Linked DNA regions of Homo sapiens: region 1 is linked to region 2. The links come from fine-mapping of genetic effects on gene expression. A gene starts in region 2. The other region holds a variant in brackets. All regions are shown on one strand. Distances are between the middles of the regions.

Region 1 (9,098 bases), 810 kb after region 2:
TTACAGTAAAGACGTGGAGGAGGCAAATTAGCAAGGCATGGAGATGTTTGGGAAAAATGCTTCCGTTTGGGGGAACAGGAATTCCAGAAGCCCTGAGGCAGGAGCATGCCAGGAGTGCTTAAAGAAATCAAAGAAGCCAGTGTGGCTAGAATTGAGTGACTGAGGAAGGAGGGAGGGGAAGTGAGGTCAGAGTGTTCATGGCTGGGGATGGGGAGGCTGATCTTGTAAGATGTTCAAGCCCATTATAAGCATTTTGGTTTTTATTTTGAATTATACAGCGGAGTAAAATGCTTTCACTTTTGTTGGGCAGGATCTCCTTAGCTATTATGTTAAGAACAGAAAGTCAAAGTGCAAGGGCAGATGTCAGGAGACCTTAGAATAATCTAGGCAAGAAATTCTGGTGATTGGAGACAAAAGGGGTAGCTGAAGAGGTAGTGAAAACTAGCTAGATTTTGGATATATTCTGATGGTTGACAGGATTTGCTATTATTAAGTTTTAGACTTAAGAAATGCCTCCTCCTCTGTTCAATGAAGGTTCAATATTACCTTGTAATACTACAAATAGAAGAACTAGAAGTTCATACTCTTTATGCTATTTTATTATGCTAGGCTGAACCCTGTGGGAGAGTCTAGAGGCTTCCTTCAGAGACAGTGACAGAAGCAGCCTTTAATGTGCTTCTCCTAGCAGTATAAATCTGCCATTGACTTCATTTGTATTACACACAGATCCCAATAAGTCTGTTTTGTAGTGCTTTTGACTACCTGAAACAGTAGGAAGACTATTTTTTAATCAATGTGCAAATGAAGAGGAGTTTATATTTTCTTCCAAATCTGACCTTGAATATTCTTTACAAACACCTAGGTGGTATTTTAAAACTGTCAACAAAATGAGTTCTTAAAAGTTATCCATGTACTTAAGCATTTGGGGGTCTTTCTGATTCTTTTTTTTAGCTTATCTGTATTTGATTACATTTGTTTGGGGTTTCAAAATGTACCACCTCCAGTTTTGCTATTTAAGTCAAATATGGCTTGTTTTAATAATATCTCTGAAGGCTTGATCATTTATTCATGTATTTATTCATTTCATTTATTCATTCATTAAATAGACATTTATGGAGGGATGCGGTGGCTCACACCTATAATCCCAGCACTTTGGGAGGCTAAATTGGACTATAGCCTGCACCCAGGAGTTTAAGACCAGCCTGGGCAACAAAGTGAGACCCTGTCTCTACAAAAAATTTAAAAATTTAAAAAATTAGCTGCATGTGGTGGTACATGCCTGTAGACCCAGCAACTTGGGAGGCTAAGGTGAGGGGATTGCTTGAGCCCAGGAGTTCAAGGCTGCAGTGAGCTATGGTGCCTTTGCACTCCAGCCTGGGTGACACAGTGTCTCTAGAAACAAAACAAAACAGTCATGTATTGAACAACTACTACATATCAGCCTCTGTGCTGTGCAGTGAGAGATAAGCTATTTCTTAACTACACATTGCAAATTCCTAGTCCTCAAGGAATATGTTAATACATATAGAATATATATATATAATAGATGATGTGATAAAAGTTAGGAAAGCTAGTAGTAACCTGCTGGCATGGGAAAATTTAGGAGTACTTTTCATGCCAGTTTTGGGGATATGAGTTTTCCAATTGGAGGGTTGGTAGTACAGGATAAAAGAGTGAAGAATGGACATTCCTGTGACAGCAATGTGCATAAAGGCTGTGGGGTGAGGGAAATCATGAGGCACTGGGGACCGGCAAGAGCTTCAGAATGGTTGGAGCTCTCCATTAGGCTAAGGAGCAGGGCTACCAAGGAGTCATGCATAGGACAGATTATGAGAAAGGTTGCTCTGACTGCAGTGTGGACAATGCATCATAGATGGCAAGATCAGAGAAAGGGAGACATGTTAGGAGGCTGATGCAGTTGCCTGGGAAAAGGATGCTTATAGCCTGAAATAAGGACTGCCAGGAAGAGAATTGGAGAATTTCAAAAGATAAGAGAGAGTCCAAAGAATCGGTGTAATTGGATGTGGTTTGTGGGAAAGAAAAACGTAAATAAAAATCCATGTTTTCTGGCTGAGACACAAGGTAAAATAACAGTGCCATTGAGATATTGGGCATAGATGGAGAAATAGATTTTGATGACCTGTGATGAATTCAGTTTGGAACAGTTGAGTTTAAGCTGTCTGTGGATATCTATCTGAAGATGTCCACTGGTTTTATTCACATAGGTCTGGACCTCAGGAGAGAAATCCTAGCTTGAAATATAATTGAGGGTAAGAGCATACAGATAGTCATTAGAGCTTTGAGGTTGGAAGACATCACAGAAGAGGAGAGTCTACAGGATTGAAGATGGGCCTCTGACATTTTAAAGGATTCACAAAAAGGAACCAGCAAAGAAGACTGTGATGTATCAGCCAGCGAGGTAAAAAGAAAATCATGGTATGAGAATGGAACTGCCCAAGGGGTTCTTGCTGCCTGCTGCACAAACAAAGACCACAGCATTGCAGTAAAGAAAGTTTAATTGACATGAGGCCAGCCATGTCACAGGGGAGACAGTTAATACTCAAAGCAATCCCCCTGAAGTCCTGTCGTTTTCAAAGGCAATTTGGGGAAGGGAGTGGGAGTGGTCACATAATGGGTGCTTGCTGATGACTGGTTGTGTTGGAGGTGAAGTCATAGGGAGTCAAAGCTGTTCATCTGAGCTGAATTGCTCCTGGGTGTGGCCACAAGGGAAAGGTTGGGGAGTCCACATGGAGCCATCCCCACATGGAGCCAGGTGGAGCCAGGGATGTCAGACATGCAAAAAAAAATTCCTGAAAACGTACCTCAAAAGGCCAGTCTGCAGTAGTGGTGTTATCTGCAGGAATATCTGGTGATAAGTGCACATACCTTAGCAGAATCAGGGTCCTCTCTTCCTTGTAGCCTGGTGGACTTCATTAGCTTTGCAAAGATGGTTGATGGTTGAGTTTTAGAGAAGGGCTATTATCATTTAAACCATAATCTAAATGTCTTCCAAAGTTAGCTTGGCCCAAAAGCCCAAGAATAATTAAGGGAAGGGCAAGATGGGGGTGGGTTAGATCAGATCTCTTTTACTGCCGTAATTTTCTTATTGTTAAATTTTTTGCAAAGTCTGTTTCAAGGGCAATATGGAAGTGTGGAATCTGAAACAGGTAAGGACTTCCAGAAGTTGGGATAAGTCACCAGTGTTAAATCATGATGAAGACTTGGGTAAGAGGAAGCCTGTAGAGCCATTGCATCTAGCAAGAGCAAAGTCATCCCCTGTTCTTAACAATAGTAATGTGAATGAAGTAAGGAGCGAGGAGGCCATATTTTAGTGAACTGAGTGAATAGGCTATAAGCAAGTGGAGAGAGCTGATGTATACTGCAAAGGAAAAGAGAGCACAGGGCCAAAGCTCACATGGGATGTGAGGCTCATGAAAGCCTCTGTTGTTGCAGTTGTTTCTTGAGGTGGGAGAAAGATGAACTTGGTTAAATGCTGATTAGAATGAGTTGTATGAAAGGAACAACTGTAGTTGTTGAGAAGCAAGGAGGCGCCTGATTAAACAGTGTTTCTGAGGTAGCAGCAATGGTCAGACTCCAGAACATCTGTGGAGGGAGTAGCCACACCTAAAAGGAAATGTACTTTTGAAAAGATCAGTCATGGGTTAAAGGTGGATACTTATTATGGATTGAACTGTGTCTCCCCCAAATTCATGTATTGAAATCCTAACGCCTACTGCCTCAGAGTGTGACCTTATTTGGAAATAAGGCCATTGCAGATGTAATTGTTAAGATGAGGTTATACTGAAGTAAGGTAAGTCCCTAATCCAATATGTTTGATATCCCTGTAAAAAGAAGAGGACAGGCATGGTGGCTCATGCTTGTAACCCCAGCATTTTGGGAGGCCAAGGGGGGCAGATCTCTTGAGGCCAGGAGTTCAAGACCAGCCTAGCCAACACGGCGAAGCCCCATCTCTACTAAAAATACAAGAATTAGCTGGGCATGGTGGTACATGCCTATAGTCCCAGCTACTCGGGAGGCTGAGGCAGGAGAATCACTTGAGCCCAGGAGGCAGAGGCTACAGTGAGCCGAGATCATGGCACTGTACTCCAGCCTAGGTGACAGGGTGAGACTCTGTCTCAAAATATAAGATAAGACAATATAAAGGGGGAGGCTGGTATGGTGGCTCATGCTTGTAATCCCAGTACTTTTGAACCAGGAGTTTGAGACCAGCCTGAGCAACATGGCAAAACCCCATCTCTACAACATACTATATATATATATACTCTATATATATACTCTCTATATATGCTATATATATACTATATATTAGTATACATATATACACCCTGTATGTATACATATATATAGTATACTATATATATGTGTGTATATATATGTGTGTGTGTGTGTGTGTATATATATATATGTATGTATGTATCTCCAGGTGTGGTGGTGCATGCCTGTAGTCCCAGCTACACAGAAAGCTGAGATGGGAGAATCTCTTGAGTCCTGGGGAGGTCAAGGATGCAGTGAGCCATGATTGCACCACTGTACTCCAGCCTGAACAAAGAGCAAGGCCTTGTCTCAAAAAAAATTTTTTTTTAATAGTAGTGGGTGGGAATTTGGACACTAACATGCACACATAGAGAGAAAGCCATGTGGTGAAGGCAGAGATCAGGAGATGTTACAGAAGGTGAAAAAAAAAAAAAAGCCAAAGATTGTCAGCAAACTACCTAGGAGAGACATGGGACAGATTTTCCAAGACCACCTTCAGAAGGAATCAACCTTGATTTGACACTTCTAGCCTCCAGCACTGTGAGAGAGTAAGTTACTGTTGTTTAAGCCACTCAGTTCGCACTTTGTTACGGCAGGCCTAGTAAACTAACTTGGTGCCAGTGAAATTAAGTTTGCCTGTTGAACGACAGAAAGTCAAGGGAGTACTGACCTGCTGCTTTTACTTTTATTAAGAACTTGGACCCAGTGTTATCTCTGGGGAGTCTTTGAGGAAGGTGGCTTGGGACACTTGGAGATAAATGGAGAAGACTTGAAATAACCATTCTGAACAATGGAAGATAGCAGTCTAAAAGGAGCTATAAGAATGCTGGGCAGTACTGAGGCTCCAGTTGAGTTTGGACCTCAGGGATTTACTCTGTGTGTGTGTGTGTGTGTGTGTGTGTGTGTGTGTGTGTGTGTGTGTGTGTTGGGGGGGTTTTGTTTTTTAAAGAGTTCTTCCAGTGGCACTCCATAGTCCAGTGTGATTATTTTGGGAATATATTTTCCACCACTGAAGTCAAAGACAACTATCTTTTTCTGCCTGCCTGACTTTCCCTAGACCCTAGTCCTTAGCAAAGGTACAAAGTAATAATACTATTTTATTCATAGGGAAGGCCATTACAATTATTCAGCAGGCTCTTTGCCAATGTGCCTCTCACATTCTTCCACCACCAAGAACTAAT[C/A]CCTGGGGTTTAGCTTATAAAATCCATGACTAAAAAATATTTTTGTCTTTCATCATCAGCTTTCTCACAGATTTGGTGGCTCTGAGCTGTACTCTGGAGCTGAAATGTCTCCTTAAGGCATTTTTCTTCATCCTTAAGTTCAAGGATGCCTTAAGAGGCTTATTTTCTCTTATCATGAATGTGAATCAAGCCACAGCAGGGTCTGTAACTAACCAGTGCTAAGGAAATACAATAACATGGTTGATGTTGGAAAATTTTCCATTGCAAACCTCACAAGAATACATTTTTTTTTCACACATAGATCCATTTCTTAAGGTAAAATATGGCAATGGATGTGAATCACGTGAAACTAATGTGAAATACAACAGAAAAATAGGACTTTGATGTTTATGAAATTTGTATTATTCCCACTGCTAAGTAAGCCAGTTTCATTTTTAGATCCCATCCTCTGAGCAAGCAGCAAAGTTCAAAGCCTGCCAAAAAAGTGATGAATTTTTCAGATGTATTGCAGGAGAATTGTAGCTGCTAGGTAACGTTTATTAGGGAAATGGAGGAAAAGGCTGGAGCCTCGGGCACCTTCAGAAAGAAAACAACCAGGAGTAATGGTCAGAGCAAGACAAAAGCGACAGTGTCTGATGGTTTGTGCTGGCCTCAGAGGATCATGTGAATGCTGTTGACAACATTCCCGTGAGTACCCCTCCCCCCACCCCACACTGAAGAAGTCAACAACCAAAGCCCTGACAGCAGGGTCTGGCTGCCCAAGGCTCCAAGGGCTCTTTAATGGGGGAAGCTATCCAATTAGAAGGTACTTAGGGATAGATCCACATTCGAACTAACTCCAACCCCAGTGGAAGTAGGTCCAACCCTGCAGCAGGTTTACTTGCGACCTCTGTGTGTAAAATGTTTTCTTTTAGCGGGAGAGGGGAGATGGCATTCTGGATTCTCATTCTTTATCCATGACCCTGCGTGCTCATACATATACCTCAAACTCTAAGCATCCATCTTATTCACACCACTCTCTCCAAACTCTAATTTGATCATAATAATAAGGCTGCAATGTCATTTAGAGACAATTTAATCCATCCCCTCCCGTTCCACCCTCTCCCTCCATACACATAATTATCACCACTACTACCATCATTGTTTTATAGAAAACAAGATAAAAACTGAAGCCCAGGATTTAAATAACTTGACCACATGGCTTATTGCTGACAAAACTAATATTAAACCTATATATTTTGATTCTGTATTCATAGATCTTTCTATAGCACCATGCAAAATGATTCAGAGACTGGAGATCAGTGATCAGCAAGAAGGATCCACTGGAACAGGCTCAGTAAACTCTGATGTTACAGAAACAGCTCTGATCTCTATGTCACTTGTATAATGGTCTCTTCCAATCTAGGCTAAACCTTTCTATAAGCAGATATTTGAGAAGATGGATTTCATTTTATCCATACTGCATAATGTATTTGAAAATTCTTTCCTATATTGAATTTTATTTAATCCTTACTACAAACCTGTGAGAAAGAGAAGTTTGGTCTGATTTGGTGTTATTAGCTCCAATTTAGAGATGAGGAAAATGAAGTGCAGAGAAAAGTAGTAGGCCCAAGTTCACAAGGTTTATAATTATTAGGACTGAGATTGGATCCCATCATTTACTGGCTTGTAGCCCAACATTTTCCCACTACTCAACAGATATTCATTAAATTCTTACTATATATCAGGGCCAACACCAGGGGCTGAGGCATTAGGGATCTAGCTAGAATATGTCTGATTTCAAAGATTTAGGAAACCTGGCAGGAAATCAGATAAGTAAGCAAATGAATCATATTCAGGAAAAAGAGAATTATTTACTTGTGTCCACCAAATAAGTCATGTAGTTACTCTGAGCCTTTGTTTCCTCATCTGCAATAATAATTTCTTTGTAGGGTTATTTAGAATATATGCAACATAGAATATATGCAAATTATGATAAAATAATAGCCAAATTTTGAATATGTAAACATTTCATTTTCATACCTACAGTATTATAAAGAAGCTCTGAAGCTCTGAGAGCAGGAACAAGATGCTTACATTTGAGAGCAGTGAGTGAGAGAGTTCCAGGCAAAATTGCTCTGACAAAACAGAAATTTTGCTTCACTGAACTTACAAGAACCAACTTCCCACTGATTTATACAATACCCTGTTAGCCCCTGTAATCTTTAGGGGTAGGGACCAAAGCCTGTAGGGTGCCTCCATACAGTATAACAGACCTTGGAGAGATCTATTCTGACTTGAAATTTGCTCACATGCTGAATGAATAAGAATACATTGGTTACTTTCTCTGATTCTGAGCCCCGGAGGGATAGAAAAGCATAATTATCCCAATAAATAACATAGCATTATAAGTCAATAATGGGATGGCACCTTCCTGGCAGCTGGATTGTAATCATGTGAATTCAGACCTTGAATTTGCCAAGGTGCTTGTTACTGCAGGGTTACCATGGGCTTATTAAATTCTTTTGGTCTGGAACATGGCTGTCTCTGCAGCTGAGTTCATGAGGTAAACAGTTGATGTAATTGATAGTGTGAATACCACTTCATTTCCTGCTGCTCTAAGAGAATTTGCTTTGAGGTAGAAGAAAATGACCCATTCTGCTACTGTGAGTTCTGGCTAGCTTTCCTCAAGGAGCATACTTTAGGCTGAGTGTTTGCAAATTGTCTTCTTTCCTTTAAGAGAGAGGACCATGGGAGGGGCCCTATCAGTCACTCTGTTATGGAGGGGTGGGGCTTCCAAGGTCACATCTCACTTGGCTATCGACAGTTTGTCAGAGAGCTTCCCAGACCTCCCTGGAAAGCCGTGGCAATGCCAGAATAGATCAGTAGGTCGATTAGGAAGAAAAAAACATGATAAGCATTTTTACTGCTGTCAGCCCAAGACAGATTTCTGAATGTGGACAAAGGGTCGTCCTGTTTCATGGGGCTTAAAACACATTCAATTAAGGAGAAATTGAATTTCTTTTTGGGAAAAAGAAAGGAATATAAAATTCTACTGGATGGGAAGAAATACTTTAACTTGTAAATTAATTTATACATTCAAAGCAATTTCAATAAAAACCTCAGAACGGCTTGTTTAGCTTGACAAAATTATTCCACATCATGTCCAAAAATGTATAATAAAATATGCAAATTTTGAATAATTTAAATAAGACATGACTTTCACTTGCAGAAAATAAAATATACTACCAAACAACAGTTGTTAAACAATGTGTTTCTGGGACTAGAATAGAGAAACGTATCACCAGAAATGAATGATTCCAAATGAAAAGAGACCCAAATTCATAGGGGAATGCAGTGCAAATAACATTATTTGACATCAGAAATTACTATTTTGTTTTGCCTTCTTGGATATCAGGATTGGGGGGAACAGCAGCATTACTGGGATAATCATATCAATGGGTAACTAATATTTATCATAAACCATTTAACAGCACAGAATGCCTGAAGGAGACTTAGGAATTTATGTTTTTTCTTTTTAGTGGAGTGAATGTGGGCATTTTTAAGAATGATACTAAAAGCAAGTTACATAAATGGAAAGATTATTTGGTCCACAAAAATAAATGGAAATGTGAGTTTCGATTTTGAAAATAATTTAAAATT
Region 2 (9,098 bases):
TCTTTGTCATATCACCCTGCTATGTCCCCTCTTAGCACTTGTAATGATCTCAGTTGACATCCCTTTTGATGACAACTCCATCCTTTCAGTTGTTTAGGCCCCAAACTTTGGCATCATCTTTGACTCCTCCCTTCCTCTTTTATCCCACATTCAATCTGTATGGAAACTCTCTCTGATGGCTCTGTCTTGAAAATGCAGGCAATCTGATCTCTTCCAACCACCTCTGTAACCACCCTGTCTTGGTCTGGGCCACCATCAATCTCACATGATTACTGGAATAGCCACTTAACCAGTTTTCCTGCTTCTGTGTTTTTCCTTTTACAGTTGACAATAAAACACTCGAAAGGATCCCTTTAAAACTGTTCTGCAGTGGCTCCTCATTTCTCAGAGTCAAATTCTCACAATGGCCCACAAGGCCTGACATAACCTTCCTCCCATTGTCTCTCTGACTTCTTCCCTACTGTTTTACCCTGCCGGAATTTAAATTTTTGAGGGTAAAAATTATTGTCTTTATTGTTCATCAGTGCATACCAAATACGTAAAACTACATGGCATACAGCAGGGGCTCAATATATATCTTTGGATCAAATGAATGAATCTTGTTTACTTCTTTATAATTTATTTTTCCACTGTTAGACTATAAGCTACATGACGACAGGATCCTTATTCTTGTTTAATAGCATATCTAAAGCATTCAGAAGAGTACACAGTACATAGCAAATGCTTAACAAGTCCTTATCAAAGAAATAAAAGAATATCTATTGGGAAAAGATTAGTGCATCTACTTACACTATACTGAGTTAATGAATACATTATACATACAGATGGTTTCCATTCATTCTCATAGGCAGCTATCTATGGTGGATGTTACACAGTAAGGCAAAGAATGAACTGTTCAGATAAATAGAACTTTATGGAAAGTGGTATGTAGGGTCATGGTTGCCCCAAAGTTACAATCATATAGTGAACCGGAATATATCACAATCAGTATATATCCCAATTCTTTCTGCCATTGGTTCTAACTATGTGGGCTCTGTCTGCTTAACTTCCTGAGGAAAAAGAAAGCTGTCACTTTGCTGGTTATTTGCAAAACTGCTTACCCCAGGGGCTTTTGTGGGGAGAAAGATTGTTTACAAAACTGAAAAACAAAAGTCATTTCAGTATATAAGAGCACTTTCCATTCTTGTAGGAGAGAGTCATGCTGCCAATGACTTACATTATCTGTTTTATTTTCATCTCTATTGAGGGGCATTCAAATCTCTCTTCCTCTGTGCAAATGTAGGGGATCCAAAACTATCCTCTGTGATCATTTGGATTGTTAATCTCTCCAGGGTTTCTTCAACATTCTCAAGGCAGTTTCTGGCACCAAAGGGAAAATGGAGAAGTTGAGATGCAATTTTATTTCCCAATTGAACTTGATTAAATGGGGACTGTTCTAATCAAAAGTTTGAATCCTGGGGGAGTGCGATGTTGTTAACAGGTTTGAGAATATTGCAGAAGAACAGGGAGGAAGTATACTAAAGTCAAGGCAGAGAACGAATCAGGCAAGAAAATAATTGTAGTAAAGCTTATTAAGGCATAAAATTAGGTGAACAAATTGCTTCACAGATAGTGTTAAGCTCATTGCTAGACCGGCAAAGGAAGTGGAAGAAAGCTCTTTGAAAACATTATTTTTATTATTTTAATAATTTGTGTGGGAATCATAGTAGCTGCTATATGTTAGGGAGAAACAATTGCCAGCTGGTGTCATCGTGGAGTAACTATAGTAGACTGAATGCAAGTATGTTTTGCCTTTTTACCTGGAGAGCGTTCAATTTTAGAAAGTTTCTATTCATTTTTGCCTGAATGTGAGGTCTGCCCTTGTAGATAAGGAAGGCTGTTTATTGTGTGATTTAAGAGCTTTGATTAGGTTCACACCAAGTTCCACAACTGTAATAGGGAGACCACACCTGGGACAGACTGTATTTACACGACCAAAGTTACCTATTATTAAAAAATGAATTTTTGAGTAAATGCCTGAATTGTCTGTGTAATTGCCTTGATTCTATGCATTGTTTTCCTTGTGGTTACCTCAAGGAAATGGAGTCACTTCAGTAGCTATTTTACTGAAAATAAAACGAGATTTTCGGAGATAATGTTCTTTGAAAAGTGTTAAAGGTACACTTATTTATGGAAATACACGTTTTGTTAGCAATGTAGCTGCTACATGTTTGTCGTACATTTTATTTTTACAATTCTCCTAAGTGATTTAACAATTATATAATCATTTTATGATTGTTATTGTTATTTTTCCCTCTTTCTTGAAACTAATAGACTAAGTGACAAAATACTGCAGGATGTAGAATTGCTCAGCTTTGCCTATAAAGTCAGGAGGAGAGATAACATAATTTAATTATTCTATTGCAATTCTGTTGTCTCTTCTTGCCTCTTGACTCAAATGGTCTCAAGAGGGGAGAGAGGAAATTATGGGCTCTGTTGTTGATGTTTGTTGAACTTCTTCAGTGACTGTATTTTCGGGATGTTAGCAGTTTCTAATTTGGCTTTGCTTTCACCTAACTTTCCTTGCTTCAGTTTCCTCATCTCTGAAATGGGATATTATACTTCTCTTATCTCCTTAGAGTGTTGTTCTGAGAAGCAAATGAAATAATGGCTAGGAGAGTGCTTTCCACTATACAAACTACCACTAGCATTCTGGTTATCCATTTTGGTAGCTAATAAGGTGATGTTTATCCATGTGATATCAAGCAATTTTATAGGAAATGAGAAGCTTCTTCAATAAGGTGATATAAAAAGGTATAATGATGTTTTACTTAACTAAAGCAGAGGTATGTGTATATTAAGCAGACACATTCAGAAAATAATTGTTGGGCTTTTGTTTTATCACAGTTTCTTGCTGTGGAGTGGGGTGTGATGCCATTAATAGGATTTCAAACTTAAGTGAGAGAAAAAGAAATAGAATCAAATAAGCTTTAAAGAAGCTGATTCATCTCACCCAACACCTTTTCTACTGATATAGCCTCCTACATATTAGGAAAGGCAAGGGTTGGAGTTGTTTAAAGAGTTGAAAACGGGAAAGGAAATAGAGGAGGGAAGTTTTATTGAGAAGAATTCCACCTGTCTAAACAAGGAAAATAGTATCCTATGGGCAAACTTTAGCATCCCTGAAAGAGCCCTGGATCTTCACTGATGGCTGCAGAGGGGACACCCTGATAAATAGATGACATCGACAGAGTGTCTCAGGAAGAAACAAGTGCATGGATTCATAAAAAGGCCAGATGGGACGGTGGGCTGCTATGAAATATTATAGCACACCTGTGGAATACGGTAGTGTAGCTGGGAGGGACACATTGGTCTGGGCCAGGGAATCACACTGCATTGTCCTCACACATTGCCTTTAACACATTGCCACTCTCCACTCGGAAAATAGGTCGAGCAGGTCTAGGGACTGTGGTAGGGCAGTTACAACAATTTGATCGTATATCTTTTCACTATCTGAAAAACAGAAGTTGTTATTGAGCAAAGATTTAGTTCTGGGGTAATACTAAATGCAACATCTAGATGTTTGAAAAATAAAGTTTCCAAAAAACATCTGCATACAAATTAGGGCTTATGAAATATAGGCAAGCTTAAGTGTTATCTTCCACCATTGTTGGGAAGGAATAAATCTTGAACATTTAGGAGTTCAACGTCTATTAGTAGAATGATTTTTTTAGGAGGTGATCCCTAAACTCCTTTTTATGTTCTAAGTACTGCATGGTTGAGGGCTGGACTGTCTAGTGCTGAAAGAAAGTGTGTATTGAACATAGAGCCTGATACACAGTTAGGCGCTTAATGGTTAATTGATGCTGGTTGAATACAGTTGTATAGTTGGACGCACCAAGTTTGTTATTAAGGGAGGACCACCATAAAACTCGAACACCAGTTAGAATGTCTTGGGTAGAAATTCACAGCAGTCTGGAGCCACGTTCCCCTGCTGAGAAGGGAACTGCCAACCCGTGTAAAGTCTGGTCTAGTGAGTGTTCCCGGGAGTGTGCAGGTGTTATTCCTGAAAATAAGGCCGGCCACTACCAGACAGAGAAGCTGCCCATTTTAAGGTGTCAGATCAACGCCAGCGACGCTTACCTCGGGGCCTCCTCTCGCCCCACCTTTGCCTTTCTGCCAAATCTCTCCTTGCTCCCGGCCGAAGGGATTCCCACCCCCAGCTGCCTCCTCCGAGCCCCGCGGAGCAGCGGACTCCTCCCCTGGAAACTCCTCCGGGGCTGGGGGAGGCTTTGGCGCATGCTCCGTACCTAGGGCAGGTTTTTGCTGCGGGTAGCAGGGCTCCTGTCACACCGGCTGGCGGGTTGTGGCGGTGCCAGCCTGTGTGTGCGAGTGTGTCTGCGTGCCTGCGCCTGGGCGGACAGCCCGGAGCGGCAGTGCGACTCGCCGGGAGAGGCGTCTCCGCAGAGGCGCCTCGCCCGCTGCCGCTGCGCTGCGGGGGCCGCTCTGCAAACTTGCGGCGAGCGCCGTCAGCCCTCGCGGCTCCACAGCCCCGCGACCTGCCGGCAAAGGCGCCGGGCGCGCGTGCCGGGCGCGGTGCCCGCGGCCGGCCGGGGCGGCGGGAGCGGGCCGCGCCTTCGCCCTTGGCCGGCGCCCTGGCGAGCCTCATGCAGCCCCGGCGCTCGCGGCCGCAGCTACCCGGCTGCCCGGCTGCGCGCGGCAGGTCCAGGACCCGAACCCCGCTCCCCAGCGCCTGAGCGCCTGCAAGCCGCCGGCGGGATGCCGCGCGTCGCCTGAGAGAGCCGCGCCGGGGCGGGAGCAGGGAGCGGGCCGGCCCGGGCGCACCCGGGAGCGCAGGGCGCCCCACGCCGCAGCCGCAGCCGAGCGCGCCGGCGCCCGCCTCCCCCGCCCGGCTCGCAGGCCCCGGCTCCTCAAGCCCCGAGGGCCGCGGGGCCGCCAGCCAGCCACACGCCTCGGCGTCAGGGGCATGGAGGAACGGCGGGCTCCGAGCCGCGCCCCGGAGTCCGCGAAACTTCCGAGCGGGCGCCCGTCCGCCCTGCCGCCGCCGCCGCCGCCGCTTCGCCTGCCGGCCTGAGAGCGGGACCATGGATGAAAGGTTCAACAAGTGGCTGCTGACGCCGGTGCTCACTCTCCTCTTCGTGGTCATCATGTACCAGTACGTGTCCCCCTCCTGCACCAGCTCCTGCACCAACTTCGGGGAGCAGCCCCGCGCGGGGGAGGCCGGCCCGCCCGCCGTCCCGGGTCCCGCCCGCCGGGCTCAGGCGCCGCCGGAGGAGTGGGAGCGGCGGCCCCAGTTGCCCCCGCCGCCCCGGGGGCCCCCCGAGGGACCTCGGGGGGCCGCGGCGCCGGAGGAGGAGGACGAGGAGCCCGGAGACCCCCGGGAGGGGGAGGAAGAGGAGGAGGAAGACGAGCCGGACCCCGAGGCCCCGGAAAACGGCTCCCTGCCCCGATTCGTGCCGCGCTTCAACTTCAGCCTGAAGGACCTGACCCGCTTCGTGGATTTCAACATCAAAGGGCGCGACGTGATCGTGTTCCTCCACATCCAGAAGACGGGGGGCACCACTTTCGGCCGGCACCTGGTGAAGAACATCCGGCTGGAGCAGCCTTGTAGCTGCAAAGCGGGTCAGAAGAAGTGCACCTGCCACCGGCCTGGCAAGAAGGAGACGTGGCTCTTCTCCCGCTTCTCCACCGGCTGGAGCTGCGGGCTGCACGCCGACTGGACGGAGCTCACCAACTGCGTGCCGGCCATCATGGAGAAGAAGGACTGTCCCCGCAACCACAGCCACACCAGGTACTGTCGCCCGCTGGGTCTCTGTTCTTCCCCCCCACCCCCCATCCCTCTTCCTCAGTCCTGACCCAGAGCGACCCCGCGCTCCCTGCCCCTGCCGATGGTTTCCTGGCGTCTTCAGCGGTTGGCGCCGTGGCTTTGGGGAGGGATGAGAAACCTCCGGATAGTGCCTAGGTCCTGAACTCGTTCTTCCCCCAGCCCCCACCGCTTCCCGCCACCCCTCTGCCTTCACCCTCTAAGATGTGCGGAGCCACCGTGTGGATCCTGCCTGTTGCCTAGCACGGCCTGGCCTCCCTCCCAGTGGACGCTGGAAAAACGCCCTGAAATGGGGAGCGGATCGCGGTCTGGGTTAGACCAGCCTTGTAGAATTGTGAACTTAAGTTTTGGGAGTGTAAACCCAAACCCAGGAAAAGGAAGGGGGAGTAGAGAGGCAAGGCACGAGTTTTCCAGGCGTGGTGAAGCTGGAGACGAGTATAATCCCTCCCTAAGTGGCTTTTGGATGGCAGCTCAGGAAACAGTCAATCCTCTTGATGCCACTTTGAAGACACACGTGCAAATTCCTGTTCTACCGCGATAGATAACTCTAATTCTGGAGATGGTCTTTGTTGCCCAGCAGTGCCAGGATTTGGACTCACCTGTCCTCAGAAAGATTTCCATGCTCTTCCTAGGCCATTACATCAACTTATTCCAAAAGTATGTTAAATGCCTACAGGGTGCCTGACAGTGTGCTAGGTGTTAAGTGAGTATAAAGATAACATAACATCCCTTGTTTTCAGGATGGAATGACATTCTTGATCCCCTGCCTCCCAGCCTTAAAAAACAGTAATACAGTGGAGAATTAAGAAAGTTAAAAATCTTAATAGCCAATGAAACTGCTTACATTATTAACATGCTTTGAGAGAGACATGGGCTTAATAATTTGGTTGAAGGTCCTTTCTGCCCATTGCAATTTGAAGATTAATCTGACATGCTTGCTAAAGGACGAAAATATTAAAAGCTTGGAACACTAGTTCATTGAAGTTTTTATCTTAAAGGTTTCAAACAATTTGGTATGAGGAAATAGGAATTTAAAAGCTCAAGCTGATTATGTTGATATCCCAGATAGCTTTTGCATTTGACGTTATAGAAAAGCTTCATTTACTGGAAGCTACCCAGATTCTGGAATTCACCACCACTGAAGCATCTAATTCTACTTCATTTCTCCAAGAATGAGCAAAATTTCATTATGAGATTTTTTACTCTGGCAATTCTTCAGATACTTTCCTTCCTCCCTGCTCCTTTTCCTGTTTCCTGCACATTAGTTAGAATAAGAAACTGGATTTGGAATGAGGGAATTAGGCTCTTCTCTTAGTATATTTTACGGATCCTTTGCTTTTAAATATTTTTAATAGTGTATTACTTTGGATCTTGCCACTCTCTTTTAGCTTAAAACAGTTTTTCAATTAAGTATTACTTCCAAACCTCCTAACACATAACACTATTACTTCAGTGAGACACAATTTCTGCTACATTTCATCCAACCTTGTACTCCCTGTTTAGATTAATTCCTGATTGACCTCAAAGGGTTTGCTAGACTGCTTCCCAGCTTCCATTTCACTAAAACTGGAGTCTTATTGATTATCACATAGAAATGTCTGATTACTCTTCAGTAGGGGCTGGCATTATTTTTGTCCCAGGTTCATAAAAGTCTTAGTAAATAGATGAAGATTTTAAAGGACTTAGAGGAGGATGTGGAATCTAAAAATAATTAGATTTTTGCTTAGTGATGAATAATGTTACTACAGACCCTGAATAGGTGACAAGCAGTAAGGTCTCACTTCTATAGGAAATACTTAATATCTCTATTCTGTTGACACAGGAAAACTCCACTGTGACTGTTTAAACATATGATTTCTAGTGTATGATCAAGTTATTTTCTTTGTTTAGTAATGGAGCATAAACATTCACTTCTCCCTGAATCACAGGTTAGCAGGCAATTAGTCACCCTGTTCTGGTTTCCTTTCTTTCTAAAAAAAAAAATTTTTTTTTGGTAGTATTTTGTTTTTACCTCATTTTATAATCCTTTCTTTTCCTTCCCACCCTCTCTCTCTCCCCAGTAATTCTCAATTACTTCCTTGCTCTAGATACTGTAGGAGGGAATAGTTGTGGCATATGTGAAGTGCCCTGCATCAAAAGCTATAGGGAAAAAGTTGAAAGGATGTTAACAGTAGCATCTCTCTAGCAGAGAAGATTGAATTAGTTGTCTGTCATTGTAATGTCTGTGTACAGCATTCTACAGTCAACTAGATTAGCCTGGATAATGGAGGGTACCTTTTCACAATGCAAAATGGCAGATAATCTATTGGTACATAATGGGAACAAGGTTCTACTTCAAATAGGGCTGACTCTAAGCAAAATTGATAAGTAGATCTTGTTGATTTTGGTTCCCTAGTCTTTCTGCTTTTGGTCCCCCCAAAGCGCCTCCTCCCAATTTCACTCAGAGATCAATGCCCTTATGGATCACATAATGGATAAGAGTAAGGATTCTGGAGTCAGATAAATATGGCTCTTGTACTTACTAGCCATGTACCCAGGAGTAAGTTACTTTTTCTGAGTCTCAGTTTCTTCACTTTTAAAGTGTAGATAATAATTAGTATGGCCATTATAGGGGTGTTGTGAGAACTAAATGAATCAATGCATGCAAAATGCTTAGCATAGTATATATGCGTAGTATAATATACTGGCATATCGTGCTTACTATGTAGATATATAGTAATACTGCAATATCAGTTGTTAATTGCAACGATAGGTTCCCCACTCAAGGCCTTCTTCCTAAAAAACCATGAGGTCCGTTTCTTAGAGAAGATCTGTATAAATGGGTCACCTTACAGAGATACCATTTTATGATTACTTGTATTAAGCATCCTAGGTTGCAAACTTAAACAATAAGTTGAAAATTATGGACATTTGGACATCAGTCTTTGCAGGGGGCAAGGTGGGGAACAAAGTTGGGGGCACACAATATAATTGGATATACATTCCGTTGGTAACACAAAAACTATCTGGAATGGTGAGCGAGGAGGTGAGAACATCTAGGACTGAAGGCAGAAGCAGGAAGCCAACTCTGAAAAGAAATACATGGCAAACTTCAAGGGGCCATCATATGGATTATGTGGGTCATGAAGGGGCAGGACCCCGGGCTGGTGGTTTGAATCCAGCACAGAGGTAACTTCTGACCACAGAAACTGGTTAGAATAGGATGGTGGCACATCGGAATTACCTCTTGTATCATATCACTGATGATTTTTTCCCATTATTTTTGTGTTGCTTT

Alleles and levels. Positions count from the first base shown, and alleles are read on the strand shown. Sizes are in standard deviations (SD) of each study's normalised expression.
For the expression in esophagus mucosa of the gene that starts at base 4,329 in region 2, C is the high allele of the variant in region 1 and A is the other (small effect, 0.37 SD a copy in GTEx).

What was found. PIP is the estimated chance that this variant, and not a neighbour inherited with it, causes the effect.
Region 1: its variant is fine-mapped to the expression of HS6ST3 in esophagus mucosa (GTEx, PIP 0.98).

The regions. Positions count from the first base shown.
Region 1 is chr13:96,892,935-96,902,032 of GRCh38, forward strand. No RefSeq gene overlaps it. Among named protein-coding and RNA genes, the nearest start is that of LINC00359, 87 kb to the right of the region's middle. The variant C/A (reference allele first, on the strand shown) is at 5,457.
Region 2 is chr13:96,085,779-96,094,876 of GRCh38, forward strand. It overlaps HS6ST3 (heparan sulfate 6-O-sulfotransferase 3), which reads left to right and starts at 4,329. Exons shown (of 2, transcript NM_153456.4): 1 at 4,329-5,791. The coding sequence starts at 5,085. RefSeq lists enhancers at 3,652-4,152, 4,153-4,653.